Regions from separate parts of the Homo sapiens genome. Here all the other regions are linked to region 3. The links come from fine-mapping of genetic effects on gene expression. A gene starts in region 3. Each other region holds a variant in brackets. All regions are shown on one strand. Distances are from middle to middle. Region 1 overlaps GPAT3 (glycerol-3-phosphate acyltransferase 3). Region 2 has its middle 81 kb from the start of GPAT3. Region 3 holds the start of GPAT3 (glycerol-3-phosphate acyltransferase 3). Region 4 overlaps GPAT3 (glycerol-3-phosphate acyltransferase 3).

Region 1 (5,149 bases), 21 kb before region 3:
TGTTCCTCAGAAATCACAGGAGATGTAAAGGTCTACTGGTTTGCTCCCTGAGGGACCTTCTGGAAACTTCATGGGCCTCTAGGCAATCAAAGCTCTTCTTTCACCAGCCCAATCTTTGGAGGAAACAGAGCTTTGAGGAAGAGAAGCAGGAAAACCAGGCACCTGGTCTAGAAAAGTCAGTGAAGGGGGTCCACAGTGGAGCTTCCACCATACTATTCTGAGGCTGCTTCACAAAGACCAAAGCTCCTGCCTAAAGGTTTTGCCTGCTCCCCAGGCATCCAGACATCACTGGCTTTTTCCTACTCCAACCCAAGAAAAGGATTCTGTCTAATCACAAGTCCAATTGGCTGTCTCTCTTGTCTGACCAAAATCCTGTTCTCGCCAAACAGAAGCACTGCTATCTACTTCCATCTCCCCAGCCTACTGTGTACAAAGCATGCCTTGCCACCTGCCCCCCTCATCTTTTTGTTCATGTGAGAATGCATGGGTCCCAGGAGCTTCGGTGAGAGGACAGAGAAAAATGGGAAATTCCATTACCAAAACATTTTAGAGAAAGAAGAAAAGGCAAAGGAGAATGGAACGATTGTTGCTACTTGCTGGCAGATTAAAAGAACTGATGAAGAACTTTCCTGCTTTCTCCGGGTGCACTGGCTCACGCTTGCGATCCCACACTTTGGGGGGCCGAGGCAAGCAGATTGCCTGAGCTCAGGAGTTCAAGACCAGCCAGGGCAACACAGTGAAACCCCATCTCTACTAAAATACAAAAAATTAGCCAGGCGTGGCAGCATGCGCCTGTAATCCCAGCTACTCGGGAGGCTGAGGCAGGAGAATCGCTTGAACCTGGGAAGCAGGGGTTGCAGTGAGCAGAGACTGGGTCACTGCACTCTAGCCTGGGTGACAGAGCAAGACTCTAACTCCAAAAAACAAAAAAAAAATCTTTCCTGCTTTCTCTGCTTATATACTAAGTAATCCACATGAGATAGTCCCATGATTATAAACACTGCCTAAAGAAGGATTTAAAAATAAACAGACATTTAAAATTTTTATAGAGAACTTTTTACAATCAAGATGACCAGGCACTGTTAAGAAAATGAAAAGAGCTTTGTTATATAACTTATACCTCTCCCAAAATTCTAAACTATTTATCCTACTTGGAAAATATCTCATATAATCTACCTGCTAGTCTGGTCCAGTTTTCTAATCATTTTTTGCTAACAAGAAGTGTTTTCTTATATACAATATAATTCTTTTATTTCCATTTAAGCCAATCTTTTTGTTCCATCTCTTAAGAATTTGAGAAAATGTGGGTTTGCTTCCTCTTTCCAACTTAGTTAACCAACTTAATATGAGTCATCCCTTGGTTTTTCTCTAAATTCAGTAATCAGCCTTCACAGATCTCACTTAACAGATTCACAGATCTCTTAACCATTTTTCAGGCTTCAGAATTTCCTCTTTGCCACCCTTAATATGAACAGTTAACCTGGGTTTATCTACGCTTTTACATCAAATCCAAACTGCTTTGTTTTTAGGGCCTCCAGAACCCAATCTTGCTTTCCCACAACCTTATTTCTATGTTTTGTCCCTTCTATAAACTAAATATACTCCCATTGCTAATTAAGCTATTCCCTCATCCCTCCAGTTTAGACAGTCTTCTCACTTTATTTAATCCCAATCCATCTCCACATGGCCGCTTCAACACCAGTATATCCACCAAAAAACATTTGCCAATGTCCCCCATCCAGAATGATCTCCTTTCATATTGCAGGCAGAAACCAGGGTGAGTGGTTCAGTCATGGCTGTGTGGTTGAATGTGCTGGTTCTGTTAGCACTGCAGCATCTTTTTAGGTTCTGTTTTGCCTTGTTTTTCACTGGTTGTCTAAACCTCTGCCTCTGTCATTCTGTGGCACACCTTTATCACGTAACCCAGCCCAGTTTTTTTAATCCCATTTTAGAGCATCAGCTATGGGTAAACAATCTTGAAAGCAGTCCCACTCTCTGATGGTTCATTCATCAAAACTGTCAAGATGACTTTCTTTTTTTTTTTT[A/G]AGACAGAGGCTTGCTGTGTCGCCTAGGCTGGAGTGCAGTGGTATGATCTTGGCTCACTGCAACCTCCGCCTCCCCAATTCAAGTGATTCTCCTACCTCAGTCTCCCTAGTAGCTGAGATTACAGGCATGCACCACCATGCCCGGCTAATTTTGTGTATTTTTAGTAGAGATGGGATTTCACCATGTTGGCCAGGCTGGTCTCGAACTCCTGACCTCAGGTGATTCACCTGCCTCGGCCTCCCAAAGTGCTGGGATCACAGGCATGAGCCACCACACCCAGTCAAGATGACTTTAAATTCTATTCCGGTTTCCTACATTGTTTAAAACTCTGAGTCTCCAATCAACTTCATTGCCCTTTACATTATGTCAAATTCATCAATACTACCTCAAACAATAAAATCAAATGCATGCCAAAACCCAGCTACTCAACATGTTCCCCAACTCTCAGTTAGTGACCCTCTCTGGTACACAGCGTGAGAACCCCTATCTATCCTCCAGATCAGAGGTAGTGCAAAGGCCAACTCCAAAACAATGAGACATGAGTAGCTGTCTGCTGGATTGCATGAAAGAGTTCTGAGGACATATCATGGTTTAGGGCATCTTGTCCAACCCATGGCCTGTGGGCTGCATATAAATGTGTGTTGGGCCACATTCAACATTAAAACATTATGAAATTTTTTTGCAATTTTTTTTTAAGCTCATCAGCTATTGTTAGTGTTAGTGTATTTTATGTGTGGCCCAAGACAATGCTTCTTCCAATGTGGCCTAGGGAAGCCAAAAGACTGGATACCCCTAAGTTAGAGTCAAACTTCATCAACTAGTGATGTCTGCCAGGATGATGGCAAGGGAACAGACAGAATGGATTTGCTGACCCTGTTATTTGGGATTAGAATAGAATCAAAAGCTTTACTAAAATAAAGGTAACTTCAATACTCCGATTGCTACATGGTTTGCACATTTGTAATAGAATAATTTGTACCCCTCCCCTTTTTTATAACTGAGTAATTTTCTGCTAGCATCTCTCAGTTACCAAAACCAAGTTAAATGTACTGCCATAGACTAAATCTTTGCATCTGCCAAGACTAGTGTGTTGAAACCTAATCCCCAATGTCAGAGTATTTGGAGGTGGGACCTCTGGGAGGTAATTAGATCATGAGGGTGGAGCCCTCATGAATGGGACTATTGCCCTTATAAGAAAGGTCCTAAAAAGATCCCTCACTCCTGTCATCATGTGAGGTTACAGCAAAAGGACAGCCCTGTACAAACCAGGAAGCTGGGCCTTGATCTTGGGCTTTCCAGCCTCCGGAACTGTGAAAAATCAGTGTTTGTTGTTTATAAGCCACCCACTCTATGGTATTTTGTTATAGCAGCCTGAGTGGACTAAGACAAATACTAGGCTAGAAGCAATAGATTTACTTTTTTTTTTTTTTGAGAACCGTAGATGAGAAAATCTAGTTCTTTTTTCATCATTGCATATTCCAGTAGTTCTCCAAAAACTTACAAAATAATCAATGCTGATTATAAAATAGGAAAATTTTAACCCCAAATATAAATATTAGCCACATAATTAACTGTGAGTTTTGATGCATAAATGGGGATGGGGTGGAGCTGAGGACACTAATCAATTGTCAGTTAGCACTGAAAAAAAAATAGCGTTGAGAATAACAGGCAGAGTTCCCTTTTTTGTTTGTTTCTTTTTCTTTTTTTTTTTTCTTGAGACTGAGTCTCACTGTGTCACCCAGGCTGGAGTGCAGTGGTGCAATCTCAACTCACTGCAACCTCCACCTCCTGGATTGAAGTGATTCTCATACCTAAGCCTCCCAAGTAGCTGGGATTACAGCTGTGCACCACCATATCCGGCTATTTTTTTGTATTTTAGTCAAGACAGGGTTCCACCATGTTGGCCAGAATGGTCTTAACAGAGTTTCATTTTAACGACTAACATTTTAACAACCCACTCTTGACCTACATCTTGGCTGGCAGCCCACATTAACTCTGTTGATTTGGATACAGCTAACTTGATTAAACAAGAAATCCCACAGCACAGAAGCATTCATAAAACTCCACTGTCAAATGAACCATTAATTCACTTAAAATGTCAGCCTTGTGGTTTGGCATTTATGTATGGTATCTTTGATTGTAATGCTAAATATTCTTAATAGATTTGTTTCTTCAAAAATTTCATTGATAAGGACAAACTGTTAGGAGCTTCCTGGTAAGTGACTATATAATAAGAAAAAAACAAACTGACTTTTCTTCTACTATACTCTCACCAAAACACAGAACACTCCTGTGACCCCAGATGTGTGGGTTTTTCTCCCACACCAAACAATTCTTCGACACCAGCTAGATGTCCCATAATTCAATTAAATTTTGACACTATCTACCTGGAGTTAGAGTCAAATTCCACAAATGAAGGGCTCAGTTCTACAAGACCGCCTCCACTTCAGGTGCCAATTGCAAGTCCAAGCCTTTGGTACTTCTGATCTACCAGCTATAAATTGAGCGTTCCCATAGTCCCTTCCTCAGGTTCAGTCATTTGCTAGAATGGCTCACAGAACTCAGGGAAACACTTTACTTACTAGTGCTGATGTATTACAAAGGATATTTTAAAGCACACAAATGAACAGCCAGATGAATACTGCACTGACGACAAGGTTCAGAAGGGTCCCTAGCACAGAAGCCTCTGTTCCCATGAAGCTGGGGTGCACCTCCCACCAGGCACCTGGATGTGTTCAACAATCTGAAAGTTCTCTAAACCCTGTATTTTTTAGTTTTTATGGAAGCTTCATGACATCAGCTTCCATAAAATGATTAAATGATCGATTTAATCATTGCCCTTTGGGGAGCAATATGGAGGGGAGCTGAAAGTTCCAACCCTGTAATCACATGTTTGGCTCCCCTGGCAATCAGCCACCATCCTGAGGCTATCTATCCAGGAGCTCCCAGCCACCAGTCATCTCATCAGCATACACAAAGACACTATCACTTATCACTGCAGAGATGCCAAAGGTTTTAGGACCTATGTGACAGGAAAGGGAGAGGGAGCAGAAGTCTAATACATATTTCTTATTATGTCACAGTGACAAAGCCAACTCTCAGA
Region 2 (5,149 bases), 81 kb before region 3:
GCAGACAAATGAAGAAAAAGGAGCTTTGCAAATATCTAGGAGATCATTCCAAGCTGAAGTAGCAAGTGCCAAGGCCCTGAGCACAAAAATTCATAGTGGTTTCAAAAAAAGAACAAAAGGGCCAGAGTACTGCAGGAGTTTGAGCCAGGGAAAGCATGATAGAAATCAGGCTAGAAGACTGATCAGTGGTCAGATTGTTTCAAGGCTTCGAATACTGGGGTAAGGAATTTAATCTTTATCCTCTGTGTAATGGGAAGCCACTGAAGAGTTCTGATAGTGGGAGCAAAATGAGTCAATTTATGAGTTGAAATTATCACACTAGCTTCTATTTACCAAATAGACTATTTGGGGAACAAGAGAAGAGGCAGGGAGATCCATTAGAAGAGTTACTATAGCCCTGTAAGAAATGATGATGGCTTGGGCTAGGGAAGTGATGCTGGGGAAGTGGTAAATGGCTCCAAAATAAGAACATGGGGCATTTCGGAGTCAAAAAGGTCTGCGATTATAAACAACCCTCTCCTATTTGGTTTGGTTTTGTTTTGTTTTCTCAAGGGTATGGGAATTGGGAAGGACAGTATATGCACAGAACAAGGAATCACCTGCACGTTTCCTGACTTCACTGGAGAGCACTTAGTCATTCCTCAAGGCACACTCATGTCCTCCCTTCTACACACCCTTCCACCCAACATTTATCACCTCTCTACACTCCCACAGCACTTTGTTCCTGGGCTGGAAAACAGGGCCTCGCCACTTCCTCTTGTGGTTAGTGGTGTTTGTCTCTACTTCCAGATTTTTCTAAGCTCCTGAATGGCAAGTTCCTGCCTTGGGCAGCAAAGAACCTCAAGACTAACAGAGCCTGAATTATAGTATGTATTTTATAAAATATGTGTAAATGCCTAAAGAGGATAACTGTTAAACAGAAGCAGTTTCCAAAGAGAGCTTTTGGACCAAGGAATTTACTAGGTGAAGCTATGGTATTTCATTCATCATTCCATTGTTAACCAAAAATCTGGAGAACTGACTGGATAGAACAGGATTTCCAAAGTCATTTCTCTGCCTATCCTAAAAAAAATTCGGTTCTGCAGGAACAGTTTCAGAACCTGCCTTACAAATAACCAGCACTGAAAATTCCTTCCAGTTAGGACGTTTGACAGGTTCACTTGTGCTTAATTTAGCAACAGACATCAGGGCTGCCTGTATCAAAGAATGATTGCAATGAAAAACAGGCTTTGAACCAAGGTCAACCCCACAGGTGACTCAGCACATGAGCACTGTCACGTGTGCATTCCATAGATGTCAGCTCCACTCCCGGCTCCTAGTCACAGAGCTTGATTCCATTGACACTATACTTTAGTTGTAAAGGAAGTATACTTTTCTGTAAACTCTTTCAGAAGAGTGCTTAGGCATTTACTATCCCAAACTTACATGAAAAATGTTCAAAGGCACTCTAAATCCCCTATGATGTTTTCGTCCAAACATGTTTCTTGATTTTGTTTTTATTTTCCACCTGCTTCAGTGGATTTCCATAGCCCAGAGTTTTTGCCTTTGTCATTGTTGTGTCCTCAGACCTAGAACAGCATACGAATTGTAAGCACCAAATATAGGTGTTTTCCTTTATAAAGCTAGAGAAACAATGATTTGAAAACTTGCCCAACTCTAACCTGTGATCCCTAATTGACTTGTGTAATCAGCAAGGATATATCTTAACTAAGCCAAGACATACAATTGTCAAAGATTCTCAAAAAAGTTTAAATTCACCTATTTGTATAAGAAATATATATATTTCACCTTGAGAGGAGACTAACTGGTTCTGCTCTTTGAGCTATCCACTCCCTGATCACAGCTTTAGAGGGCAAACGGATTTGAAATGTTTTAGGTCACCAAGATAGAGTATACATTTTTTATTCTCAGAGTTTTCCAAGACATCTTTTCCGGACACAGAGCCAAGAGGCCAGCAAGTAGCCAGAATTACTATATGCGTCTCACAACAGCAGGGAGTGCTCATAGCAGGAATTTATGACCATGGAGGGCCATCAAAAGCCTTGATGGGATCCTCAGCCTAGGCTGTAACACGTGCAGCCTGAAAACTCACCACCCACCCACAATGCCAAGAACACCAATGACCTGGTGGCTTCTTTCAGCTGACTTCCTGCTGTCGGGTTTTTGTATTCTCCACCAACACCAAAATCTTCCAGTTTTCCCTGTGTTAGTCCAGATCTCCTATAAATCACTTTATCTTACAAAACCTTTCAGCATTTAATTTGCAAATGAACAGTAATGATTCTAAAGGAGAGGCTTTTCTCCTTATATTTAAATAATGGCTTTAACCTAGAGTAAAACACTCAGAGAAACTTCTTTTTAAATTTAAAG[T/C]TGTCTCCTTCTAGAACTTTTATTTTTTGCAACAAGAACTCACTCTCTTCCTATATGATAAAAGAAAATGATTTTGAATGCTTCTGTAACTAGCAAGAAAGTTAGGACTACTCAAGTCAGAGACTAAAGGAAGATCGATTCCCAGAGGAAAAAGCAGAGCAGAGAGCCCAGCAGTTGTCATTTACTTTGCAGGCATTGGCTGAACCAGGCAAACTCTAGCATTGGTTTCTAGAGCCTTAAGGGCCTAAGGGACAAAAAACAAAATTGAAGTCCTGCCCAAGATGGAAAGTCTAACTACAGTCTTCCTTTGAAGGTGAAATATCAAAGGACTATAACCTCTGTGTAACAGTAAAGTAGAAAGGGCCAGGTGCAGTGGCTCATGCCTGCAATCCCAGCACTTTGGGAGGCCGAGGCGGGCGGATCACCTGAGGTCAAGAGTTCGAGACCAGCCGGACCACATGGAGAAACCCCATCTCTACCCAAAAAAAATACAAAATTAGCCAGGCATGGTGGCGCACACCTGTAATCACAGCTACTCTGGAGGCTGAGGCAGGAGAATCGCTTGAACCCGGGAGGCAGAGGTTCCGGTAAGCCGAGATCACGCCATTGCACTCCAGCCTGGGCAACAAGAGCGAAACTCCATCTCAAAAAAAAAAAAAAAGAAAAGAAAAAAAAAAGAAATAATCCATCCTCCAATCTCAAATGTAAGCAAGGCAAATTGCTTGTGTCAAACCTTACTGATAAGTGAAAGGGAAAAATAACTTTCCCCTAAAGATTTAAAACTACTTGGCAATTAAAAAGAATGAATTACTTATAAATACAATGTGGATTTATCTAAAAATAGTACACAGATCATTCAAAACCACAATGGCTCACCTTTGGATTTACAGACTGAATTCTCACTATTTCCATAGCCCGATAACCTCAAGCCAACAATATAGTTTAAAGTAGTACCAGATTGATAGTGCCCTAGAGCTGGGGTGGGCAACCATATCAGATGAAGAAGCAGATAGTAAACATTTTAGGCTTTGTGGGCCATGCAGGTCACTATAGCAACTACTCAACTTTGCTTTTGTCATGCAAAAGCAGCTATAGGCAATATATAAACAAATGCTGTCTTGCAATAAAATTGTATTTACAAAAACAGACAGAGGGCAGGATTTGGCCTACAAGCTTTGGTTTGCTGATCCCTGCTCTCCAGGTCTAAGAGAGGATAAAATTCCAAAGATGATAATTATTAAAATTCTCTAAACACACAAAGACTCTATGAACAAGAAGCAGCAGAAAAGATAGACCCAGACCCTCAAAAGATATAAGATTTTGGAGTTGTTGGGAAAAACATAAAATCAATAAGCATAAGGTACTTCAAAACTATGTGAGAGTAATCACATTTGAAAAAGAATTAGATATAACTCTTACAAATGAGAAATAAGGCTGGGCGCAGTGGCTCATGCCTGTAATCCTAACACTTTGGGAGGCTGAAGCAGGCAGATCACCTGAGGTCAGGAGTTCGAGACCAGTCTGGTCAATATGGTGAAACCCTGTCTCTACTGAAAATACAAAAAAAAATAGCTGGGAGTGGTGGTGCATGCCTGTAATCCCAGCTACTCAGGAGGCTGAGGCAGGAGAATCGCTTGAACCCAGGAGGCAGAGATTGCAGTGAGCCAAGATTGTGCCACTGCACTCCAGCCTGGATGACAGACGGAGACTCAGTCTCATAAAAAAAACAAAGGGAAATAAAGGACATCAACAAAATGGTTAACTAGAGTTGCCTGGCACATATCCCTCCCAACAAAAAACAACCAAAACAACAAATAACAACTAACATTCAACTGTAGTGTCTGAGGGACAGCACTGGAGTGCAGAAAGGGACTGGTGAAATCCCTGTGGAGCACAGAAGCCCAGGATGTCAGCAAAAAGAGGGGAGCAAGGCACCCTGCCCCTGCCACCCCATCTCTCCCATTGAGATTGGCTCAGATCCAGGAGGGACTTCTCCATATGGGAAAAAGGTAAGCAGAAGGCCCCCACATGCCTGAACTGCCACTGCAGATTCCTGTAGTACTTACTATAGAAGAATCCCACAGTCCTCAAAAGCCCTTAGCCCAGTTTGCGGAGCTGCTTGGAATTAACATAGCTGCGTTACTCCAGAGTAGGAACACAAGGTGTGCACTCCCCACCCCAATCAACCCCAGTGAGCCAAGCTACTGCAGGACTGTGCCATCTTGAAACTGGAACCACTGCTAGAGTCCACCCTGCTCTGGGGTCCAGCAGCCACTGCATGTCTCCAGCCTTGAGTCTCTGCCATTATTTTACCAAGTCCACACAGGTGGCTGCAATACCACAACGCTGTCTGCTTGGAGCATGGGGCCAGGAACAGCCATGACTTCAGCATTGCACAGCAGGAAAGCCAACCCTTGGCTGGCTGAACTAAATAGTCCAATGGACCTTCCCCCAGAAAGTCCCCCTTCTTGGCACTCACTACCAAAGAAACAGCCTGACAAACCTGCCCCTGAGACAAGCCACCGAACTACTGCACATCCATGTCCCAGCTGGAGAAGCAACAAGGTGAACCCACCTCCAGCAGAAACATTCCTGGTGGACCCACTCCCAGGTCCACCAAGCATCTGTATCCCTGCACCCATGGCCAGCGAAACTGCATGGAAAATTCACCCCCAGCAAGCCAGTCACCAAACCAACCAACCCACTGCACACTTATGCCTCTGGCCAGAGAAAAAGCTCAATGGTCCCATCCCCGCAAAGATGCACCACTGCCACCATA
Region 3 (5,149 bases):
TATATCAAGCATCTCTTTGACCTAATAACTTAGTCTCAGCAGACAGGGTGGGTTCCTGATGTGTCACCTACCTGGTTTCCAAGTTATCTGGTTTCTCCCACCAGAATTAGAAAACTGGCATTCTTGTCAGTTTGATTGACAAGGAGTTCAGCTCTGGAGTTATCCAGAAGGACAAAAATTAAAATCTCTGGCCTGTCAAACTGAAAGTCAGATCCTGGACTGGAGATCATCCTATCAGGTATAATAATTTGCCAGGCTGACAGCAACTAGCTGGCCTCCGTCCTTAGCTGACCTTGAGTTACTAAAGAAAAACAGACAGAAGTGAGCCCCTGGAAGCCAGTGGGTGTGATTTACCTTTACACCATTCTTACACAGGGTATAAATTCCAAAAGACATTGCTGTATGAGAGAGCAGTTCAATCATTTCAGAGTTCAGAGAAAGAGGGAACACCAGCTGAAGAGGATCATCTGCTATGGGAGAGGATTCTGAAGATCTCACATTAGGAAGCAGTCAAGAAATTCACAGCATAATGTGACCAAGCTCAGAATGTAAAGTCAATAAGAAGAGTTCAAAACTGAGAAATAGCTCCCAAGTAGAAACAGTAGAACTTTAAAAACATGAGCACTGAGGATGAAGAATCACATACAACTTCAAAGTCTAGGCAAAGAAATAGCCACAAACAAGAGTCTAGGGCAATACAGGAGGCTAGCAAGTACAAGACAATGTCCAGTGGGTTAGAGATGTATACCTGGGAGCCACCCAATTAGCTGAGAAAGAAGAGCAGATAAAGCCACGTCCTAAGGGCAGAGAGAAAACAGGTCACAAAAATGGGAACCAAACTTATTAGAAGGCACTGTGGAATGCCAGAATCTCAGTAATCATATTATTCTTTTAATAGCAACAAGCATTCATACAGTAGGTGCAGGCAGCCTTCTAAGGTGCTTGATACCTTTTAACTCATTTGAACAACCCTATGGAAATAGGAGTTATTGTTACTCCTATTTTATAGATACAGAAAATGAGGCACAAGAGTAGATGACCTCCCTAAGGTCACATTTTGAGAAACAGAGCTACAATTTTGGTACCAAATCTAAGCAAACCTGTATCCAGGGTCCCTAATCCTAACCACTAGGCTGCAGGGCCTCTTCTCAGTTGAGATGCCTGTTTCTGGCCAGGCGTGGGGCTCACACCTTTAATCCCAGCACTTTGGGAGGTGACGGCAGGAAGATTGCTTGAGGCCAGGAGTTCAAGACCAGCCTAGCCAAGATAGCAAGACCCTGTCTCTTATGTTAAATATACACACACACACACACACACACACACACACACACATATTATACATATAATTAAATTTTTTTTTAAAAAAAGACTCCTGCTTCTAACACTTAATTCAAAGAAACCACTGATCTCTGACTCTCAGTTTCCCTCTCTGTAAAAGGGGGTTGGCACTTGCCCTCCCTACCCTACCCAGCCTTTTGACACTTAATAAAACCCTAAGAGTAAGCTGCAGTTGTTCTCTACCAGGCCTACTTCCATCTAACATTTTTCTTTGCAGGATTTGGAAACAGGAGGGTAGGGAGACCTGAGGTCAAAGAATATATACCTTTTCAATGGCATTTCAAGTGCTGTTGGTTAGATAAAATTTCCATGACTCCACTAAAATAAAATAAGATTTCTTTCTGCCATCCAGCAATTGGTCTCTTATCTTGGGCATAAAGAAGAACATGATGCCTTTCTGAACTGGATGCCTTAGTACACAAAAGGACCTCTGAAACCTGGGGCTGTAAAAACAAGCGGGTGAAGCGGAAACTGCACTGCATAATGGATATAAGCAAATCCTCTGATACAAAAAGTTGGTCGCATTGTTGTTATTCTAATCAGTAAAATAATAACGATGCTCAGGGAGTGGAATGATTTTTTCGCCTTCGACCAGAGAAACAACAGAGTGGTCCAGTGGTTCCAGCCTAGATCCCTCCAGCTCCGCGAAAGAAGCCGAGATGCTGACTTTCGCACTGCTGCGGGCAAGGAACAGAAATGCACGCACGCATGCACACGCGCGCACACACACCCCTGACTCGCGACCACTGACCTTGAGAACTGGACCCCCGGGTTCTCAGCCCGCAGCGGTGTGGGGCTGGCTGCATCCCTCCCGGCACTCACCTCTAAAGTTTTCACTAGGATCTTCATGTAGATCTCGGAGATGCCCAGAGACACTCCGAAGACCGAAGGTAAAAGGATGAAGCCGAGAACCAGCGTCAGCCAGGTGGAAAGGATCTTCCCGGCCAGCTCTGCGCCCTCCATGACTCGGCGCACCCACTCAGGAGAGGTCCGCAGTGGAGGGCCGAGCGCCACAGCAGTCCCTGTCCCCAGGCAGTCCCGCGGGAGCTCCAGGAGCAGAGCGCCGAGCCCGGCACTCACCTCTGCGAAGGGAAGAGAGGAAGGAAAAAAACTTTCAGAATTACGGCAATATCCTTCCTTCCTCCCTGGGCTCCTCCTCGCCCCTGCCAGTTAACTCTTTCTCCGCTGGCTGCCCAGGTCTGGGCTGAAGCCACCGCGGCGTGCGGAGACCTGGGTAGCGCGAGCCAGTGGTCGGAGCTGCGGGTAAGCGGAGGCACACCGCGGCGCGGGCAGAGCGCGCGAGCGCAGCCAGGAACCCGCCCCGCCCGGTGCCTGATTTCCTCTGGGTGGCGATTGCGACAACTCAGCAGATGACTCACGGAGGCCCTCCCCGAGCCAGGTTCCCTGCGGGAGCACCGCACTTTGGCACACCGGTCGCCGGCGGAGCTGGCACCGGGCCGCGGGCTGTGCTGGAAGCTGGCTGCGCTCGGGCGCCCAGCGCCCTATTTCTGCGCGCTGCCCTCGCCCCACCTCCTCCGTCACCCAACGGGGGAGCTCCCTGGCAGTACTTAGCCCAGGAGTGCCGCAGCCTCCTGGGCGGTCTCCGTTCTTCCCCGCGCCCCGCCTCCCCCAGCACTCAGCAAAGGTCCTTTCAGGAGGAGAGTTTTCATCTGAAAAATGTCAATATTTTCTTCACCCGCAGAATGAACTGCTGACGTATCTGGGACGCTTGAGGTCTTGTTTGTGTGGGTGTAAAACGAACTCTTGGAAAGGGCTTCCAAGGACAGGAAAACGCAGAGCGCACCACGCAGCCGTGTACGCCGCTTCTGGCTTCCACACCTCCTTCCCCACATGGCCTACAGCTGTGGGGCTCAATCTTGCTTATCCCGAGAGTAGGAAGCTCTCTCCACGCGTTGCCTAGCCCACTGAGCCGCCATCTCCCTGGCACAGAAACCCTGCGGCTAAGTATCTGTCACTCCCTTTCTGGGGGAAGATTCCAACCACACCTTCCCCTACCATTCAGCCAATACTATCCGCGCTTAGGCGTAGCAGAAATGCCAGGCCGGCGCAAGCCTTCATTCACCAAGCTGACAGGTGTCTCCTGGGTGTTCAGGCTCCGCGCTTCTACCGCGCCAGCCCTTATCAGAGCAACGAAGGGCAAAACCCTGTATGTTATTTACTACATTGCTGTTCTCTTAGAGACCAGAACTATTTTTAAGAATGAGCAGAAGGGATTTTGAGAAGGGATTTTCCAGATTGCCGCTGAATTCGACCAAAATCTCTTACAGGTACTTTTCAGGTGTTGTTTCAAGCTGGAAAAAAACTGAGAGGGCCAGCAAACTGAATTGAAACAGCGCTGATAGCAAATATTGCAGAGAAAATGGTCCCTGCCCAGGGTGTGGAGGAAGTGGGGAGCCAACGAAGTGACAAGCCCCTCTGTAAAGAATGTAGATGTCTGCCTTAAGTACTTACTGCCAGGTAGCTGTCACAAGCCCCCTCCCACACTAAGAACGGAAAAAATTATAACTTGATGATTAAAACCAGGTTATGGACCGGGCGCGGTGGCTCACGCCTGTAATCCCAGCACTCTGGGAGGCGAGGCGGGCAGATCATCTGAGGTTAGGAGTTCAACACCAGCCTGGCCAACATGGCGAAACCCCCGTCTCTACTAAAAATACAAAAAAATTAGCCCCGCGTGGTGTCGCACGCCTGTAGTCCCAGCTACTCAGGAGGCTGAGGCAGGAGAATCACTTGAACCCGGGAGGAGGAGGTTGCAGTGAGCCGAGATCGTGCCACTGCACTGCAGCCTGGGAGACAGAGTGAGACTCAGTCTAAAAAAAAAAAAAAAGGGTTATGAATGAAGAAGTGTTAGGAGCTTGGTTTCTCAAAATTAAACCTCTGTAAGGTTGGCTAGTTTAGAAAAACACGGAAAACGCAACTACCGAAAGCTGCCCAAAGTCCTTGCTTTCAAACACTATATATATTGAGTGCAAAACTTCAAATATTATATTGGCATATTTAACACCATATGTTCAGGCAAAACTCTTATTTTCCTTTTATTTCCTCAAACCAAGATAACTAAGGAAGGCTAAATCCTTGTACCAAAGTTTACCCCACAAGGGAGATAATACACACAACTTTGCGTGTGCTGAGTGCACACACTCTCCAGTGATTTTTGGTGCTCATGAACAAACTCCACAAAATGGTTTTGGTTTGGTTTTGTTTTAACTGTTACGGAAGAATTATTCGTCCACAGCTGTATGGTGCAATGGTAATAAAATGGAATTTGGAGTCTTCGATTGAGAGCAGCACGAACACATATAAGTTTGAGCAAGTGCTTCTGTGCTTCACCTTTCTCATCAGGAAGATGGGTTCTTCTCAGGGTTGAAAGTGATTGTGAGCATGAAACTGCATGGTAAATGACAAAGCTCTATGCAGAGATCAGCAGGCAGCCTGGTGCAAGGGCAAAAACTCTTCATCTTTTTCTTGCCTAAAAGGCAGGAGAGCCAACACAGGCTCCCCAGGGTAACAAAGGCTCATCTTTGCAGTGATGGAGGAGGGTGAGGGAAGAGAAGAAATGTAGGGTGATCCTGACCCTGTCTCAAGTCGGGGAAAGTTGGTCCCGACTTGCCGCTCTCCTTGTCTCTCTTTCACTCTCCTCACCTCTCCTCCCTCCTCCATTCCTTGAGACTTAAACCTAGGTAGGAACCTACTTTCTCCGTCCCTGAAGTCAAGACCCCCTTTACTTACTGTATTTGTTTCCTAGGGATGCCTTCACAAATCACCACAAATTTAAGGACTTAACACAACA
Region 4 (5,149 bases), 33 kb before region 3:
AAAATGTCAGCTACATTTTAAAATATATATATGAAGCCAAGCGCAGTGGCTCACATCTGTAATCCCAGCACTTTGGGAGGACAACGGGGGTGGATTACCTGAGGTCAGGAGTCTGAGACCAGCCTGGCCAACATAGTGAAACCCCCGTCTCTACAAAAAACACAAAAATTAGTCAGTGTGATGGCAGGCACCTGTACTCACAGCTACTTGGGAGGCTGACACAGGAGAATTGCTTGAACCCGGGAGGCAGAGATTGCAGTGAGCCGAGATGGCACCACTGCACTCCAGCCTGGATAAAAGAGGGAGACTCCATCTCAAACAACAACAACAAAACTATATATGTGTATATACACATATATATATATGCGTGTATATATATATATGTGTGTGTATATATATGTGTGTGTGTATATATATATATACACATATATATATGAGTGGGGGAAAACTATAAGGAAATACATTAAAATATTAGGCTTTTTCTGATTAATAAGTATTTCATATGGCTGATTTTTAACTTATTTATACTTCTGCAATGTCTAATTTTTCAACAAAGTATATATACTTTGTTGAAAAATACTTACATTGAGAAAAATACTTAAGATGTTATTTTTAAAACTATAATGAGATACTACTACATACCCACAAAAATGGCTAAAATTTTAAAAGGCCAAAAATACCAAGTGCTGGAGATGCTAGGGACCAACTGGAACTCTCAAACTTTGCTGCTGAGAGTGCACAAACATTTTAGAATACCATGTAGCAGTTTCTAATAAAGTTCAACAAATACTTGCTTACCCTATGGCACAGACAGTCATAAGAATGTCTGTACAATGTTTATAGCAGCTTTATTCCTAATGGCTAAAAACTGGAACTAACCCAATTATCAATCGACATTATAATAAATAAACAAACTATTGGTATTATATAAAGGAATACTCCATAGCAATTATTTTTAAAAATCCACTGATTCATGCAACATGGAGAAATCTCACAACTATTATACAGAGTGGGAACAAAAACAGACACAAAGAATATATAATGTATGATTTCATTTATGTAAATGTCAAAAACAGTAAAAACAGACGATGACAGAAATCAGAAGAGAGAGTACCACTGGGACTGAGAGATGAAGGGCAGATACTGAGCAGGGGCTTAAGAGAACTTTGAGATCATAAATGTGTTCTTTAGCTCGATTGGGGTAATCACATGAGCCTACAAATATGTAAAAAATCATGTATCTGAACACTGAATATGTGCATTGTAACAGATGCAAATTATACCTCAATTTTTTTTTAATCAGAAAAAAAAGATTACCTTTAAGAGTTCTCCCAAGCTGGGCACAGTGGCTCACGCCTGTAATCCCAACACTTTGGGAGGCCAAGGCGGGTGGATCACCTGAGATCAGGAGTTCGAGACCACCCTGGCCAACATAGTAAAACCCTGTCTCCACTAAAAATATGAAAATTAGCCAGGCATGGTGGTGCACATCTGTAGTGCCGGCTACTCAGGAGGCTGAGGCAGGAGAATCACTTGAACCCAGGAGGCGGAGGTTGCAGTGAGCCGAGATCGTGCCGCTGCACTCCAGCCTGAGTGACTGAGCAAGACTCCGTCTCAAAAAAAAAAAAAAAAAAAGAGTTCTCCCAAATTTCTAGCTATAGTTTCAATTAAAGGCTCTAGCCAATCCTATCTTCCCATGTATATTTTAAAATCTTCCTTCCTAAACTAAAAGGCAGCTGACATTGACTGAGTGTCTCCTGATGCCAGGCTGTATATAAAACCCTTGACACCTACACTTTTGTAGTCTTCGCAATCCTATGAGGTATTCTGTATTATCTCCAACTTATACATGAGGAAATTAAAGTGCAGAGGGGTTGAGTAACTTGCCTGGGGCCAGAGAGAAGAAGGAACTGAGACAGGATTTGCAACCAAGTCGGTGACTCCAAAACCAAGTGCTTCCTCATATGTTATTGCCTCAAGTTTCACATCGCTCTAACCAATACCTGCCCACTGACGAATCCCAAATATGTAAGATATTTCTCGTCAATACAACACCACCCCCAGTTCTTCCTTGCTAAACAGAAAGCCCTGAGTAGCAGCTCTTCCTAGCATTTCTCCTACCTTTGAGGGAAGAAAGATAACTTTAATTGATACAAGAAAATCTATATATGGCCCCTATCTAACATTAATCTAGACATGCACTTACAATTCACTTACACGTGATCATTCTTCCCAGAAAGTTGTGACACAATTCACCCTTTTTTTTTTAACTGAGGCAGGAATCTTTTACAGCTTGGAACCCACTTAAATTCCTCTCATTTAGAATCTCTGGGCCATCCTACAATAAGCCAAACAAACAAACAAACAAAACCATGCCCTGGGCAGTGGTGCACCAAGTGGTCCCCAGTGCTGTAGTTCAGCCAGGTCCACGTTGTCCAAGGAGACCGTTCTGCCCTCTGCTAAGACTCTGTAACATCAGTGCACAGGCATCCTGCCAGTATCCTTACTCTTCAAGGCCTCTACACGGCAGAAGCAGCTTCCCTACACATCTCACAGATGACATAGTCAAGGTTTAGAAAGGATAATCCCCCTTGATTTGTTGTTGGTGTTATTGTTCTTAGATATATTCTCACACCTTCTACCATTTTTACATCTTTATTAACCTGGACCGTCAGCCAGGCAAGGTTTATAGAAAATGGTCTCTCTTTTTTGGTCCAAAGAGCCAAGCAGCCCTGCTATATTCTTCTCAGTCATCACTCCAGGTTTCAGTTCAAGGTCTTTGAGCAAAAGACAGATTGACCATGAAGCCAGTAAGGTTAAACTTCAGGGTCCAAACTTGCATAGGCTCCTTCCAAGGTCCTGTACTTACTTTTGCATGGATCACTTTGTATTCCTTATTAAAGAAGGCCTCTAAATTGCATAAGCTTTAAGCCCCCACAAGACCTGGACTTGCCCCTACCTCTGAATAACATTATCATTTTGTTGATACAAACAACAGATCTATGTTAAACCATTCACCTTACAAATGAAGCTGATTTAGGAGAAATACTTAAGATGAGAGAACCAACT[G/T]ATTACCAGTAAGCATTAGAACACTGGGAGGTCACAGACACACATAACATCTTTCCACTTAATTTCACATATTATGAATAGTATTTTATCTATTTAATGGTTACATTAGCAATGTACTAGTAAGAGAGGTTGCTCCTTGTTAGGCAGTTTTGTGGTTATTTTAAGGTTTTAAGTTTCTCAGTTATTGGAAGTGGGGGAATTGAAGAGGATGACAAATGAAAAATGTGAATACAGGCCGGGCGTGGTGGCTCATACCTGTAATCCCAGCACTTTGGAGGCTGAGGTGGGTGGATCACCTGTCAGGAGATCGAGCCTATCCTGGTTAACATGGTGAAACCCCGTCTCTAGTAAAAATACAAAAAGTTGGCCGGGTGTGGTGGCGGGTGCCTGTAGTCCCAGCTACCCCGGACGCTGAAGCAGAAGAATGGCGTGAATCTGGGAGGCGGAGCTTGCAATGAGCCTAGATCGCGCCACAGCACTCCAGCCTGGGCAACAGAGCGAGACTCCGTCTCAAAAAAAAAAAAAAAGTGAATACAAATGAAAAGTTAAAAAACACTACATAAAAGTTTCACAGGTTTCCTGGTAGCAATAACCCTGCCTTAGAAGAAATAGATTATGATATACCATACAATAGGTCCATAAAATGAAAAGGGGAAGAAGTCATCACAACTATGATGACCTTTAATATACATGAAATGTGCTCAAAATAAATGCATCTCCTTTGGTTTTCCTAAGCGCTACTCAATCATGATGACTCAATCACAATTGCCTATTTTAAAAAAAAGCATTCGAGTTATGAAACTACTCACGCTCCCCCTAGTAACATGGCCTGGGTTGGCACATTTAAAGATACAAGTTACAATCAATTTTTTTTTAATGTGAAACAGGGTAAAGTTTACTTTAAGCACCTGCACACCCCACTACTTAATCCAATTAAGAAAAATAAAATAAGGGCAGGAGAGAAAGCCCACATATAATACAAAATAAAAATGTGCAAAGAAAAAAACAGAAAATCATAAAAATCATAAGAAAGAATTCTACACAAAGTCTTCTGCAAATAACTTTAATGAAAATCTGGGTAAACAGATAATTTTCTATTTAAAAAAAAAGTTGCTCAAAGCTTTACTGACACCAAGAGATGAACATGCTAAAGAGAACCATTTGCACAGATGAAATAATGTTGCAGGCAGCAAAAAAATACCTACATATGCACCCCTAACCAACCAATAAGCACCAGACCCAGGCTTTTTTTGTTGTTGTTGTTTTCAAATAGAGACAGGATTTTGCCATGTTGCCCAGGCTGGTCTTGAACTCCCGAGCTCAATGATCCACCCGCCTCAGCCTCCCAAAGTGCTAGGATTACAGGCATAAGCCACCACTCCTGGCCCAGACCTTTTTTTAAGGAATTCTACCAAACATTTAAACTGACAAGGGAAGGAGAAATAAAGGAAGATAGGTAAGTAATACACTAATCACAAGTATAAGAATCAACTGTAAAAATCCTAACTTCAATTTTGGCAGACAACTTCCAGCATCATATTATGACCAGGTAATGTTTATTCCATAAATGCAAAGACAATTCAAATATTTTTAAAGTTATTAATAAAATTCACTACAATGGGTCTAAGAGGGGTAATCTATCTTCACCATCAGACATGCCTTAAAAGCATGAAAATTCAACATTCACTCTTAATTTAAAGTAACAAAACAAGAATCAGCAACTATTTAACATGAGATGGAAAAATAGATCAAAGTTGACATGATCTTTATTGGGAAGACCCTAAAGGCACTGAAGACCATCCACATAGAAATGCCAACTTGCCAACTAGCACCACTACTGTTTAGCACTGCAGGGAGTATCAGCCAGCACAACCAGACAAGAGAAAAAAAATGAAGTACAAACTAGGAAAGAAATAAAATGCAAACCAAAGTTGAATAAGAAATGGCAAGCCTATCAATATCTGAAGATAAAATAATTATATATCTGAACAAAAGGAAATTCCTGAAAAACCATATACAGTATGAGAATTCTTAATTTTATATTCTTCTACCTTACTAAAGTAGAAAATTTTCCTATACA

The links. PIP is the estimated chance that this variant, and not a neighbour inherited with it, causes the effect.
Region 1: its variant is the best candidate, but not a certain one, in a credible set for the expression of GPAT3 in monocytes (TOPMed, PIP 0.70).
Region 2: its variant is the best candidate, but not a certain one, in a credible set for the expression of GPAT3 in whole blood (TOPMed, PIP 0.50).
Region 4: its variant is the best candidate, but not a certain one, in a credible set for the expression of GPAT3 in blood mononuclear cells (TOPMed, PIP 0.72).

The regions. Positions count from the first base shown.
Region 1 is chr4:83,555,110-83,560,258 of GRCh38, reverse strand. All of the region lies in intron 2 of GPAT3 (glycerol-3-phosphate acyltransferase 3), which reads right to left. Among named protein-coding and RNA genes, the nearest start is that of GPAT3, 22 kb to the right of the region's middle. The variant A/G (reference allele first, on the strand shown) is at 2,046.
Region 2 is chr4:83,614,737-83,619,885 of GRCh38, reverse strand. No RefSeq gene overlaps it. Among named protein-coding and RNA genes, the nearest start is that of GPAT3, 81 kb to the right of the region's middle. RefSeq lists enhancers at 1,116-1,410, 584-1,783. The variant T/C (reference allele first, on the strand shown) is at 2,371.
Region 3 is chr4:83,533,775-83,538,923 of GRCh38, reverse strand. It overlaps GPAT3 (glycerol-3-phosphate acyltransferase 3), which reads right to left and starts at 2,816. Exons shown (of 12, transcript NM_032717.5): 1 at 2,161-2,816. The coding sequence starts at 2,301.
Region 4 is chr4:83,566,958-83,572,106 of GRCh38, reverse strand. All of the region lies in intron 2 of GPAT3 (glycerol-3-phosphate acyltransferase 3), which reads right to left. Among named protein-coding and RNA genes, the nearest start is that of GPAT3, 33 kb to the right of the region's middle. The variant G/T (reference allele first, on the strand shown) is at 3,070.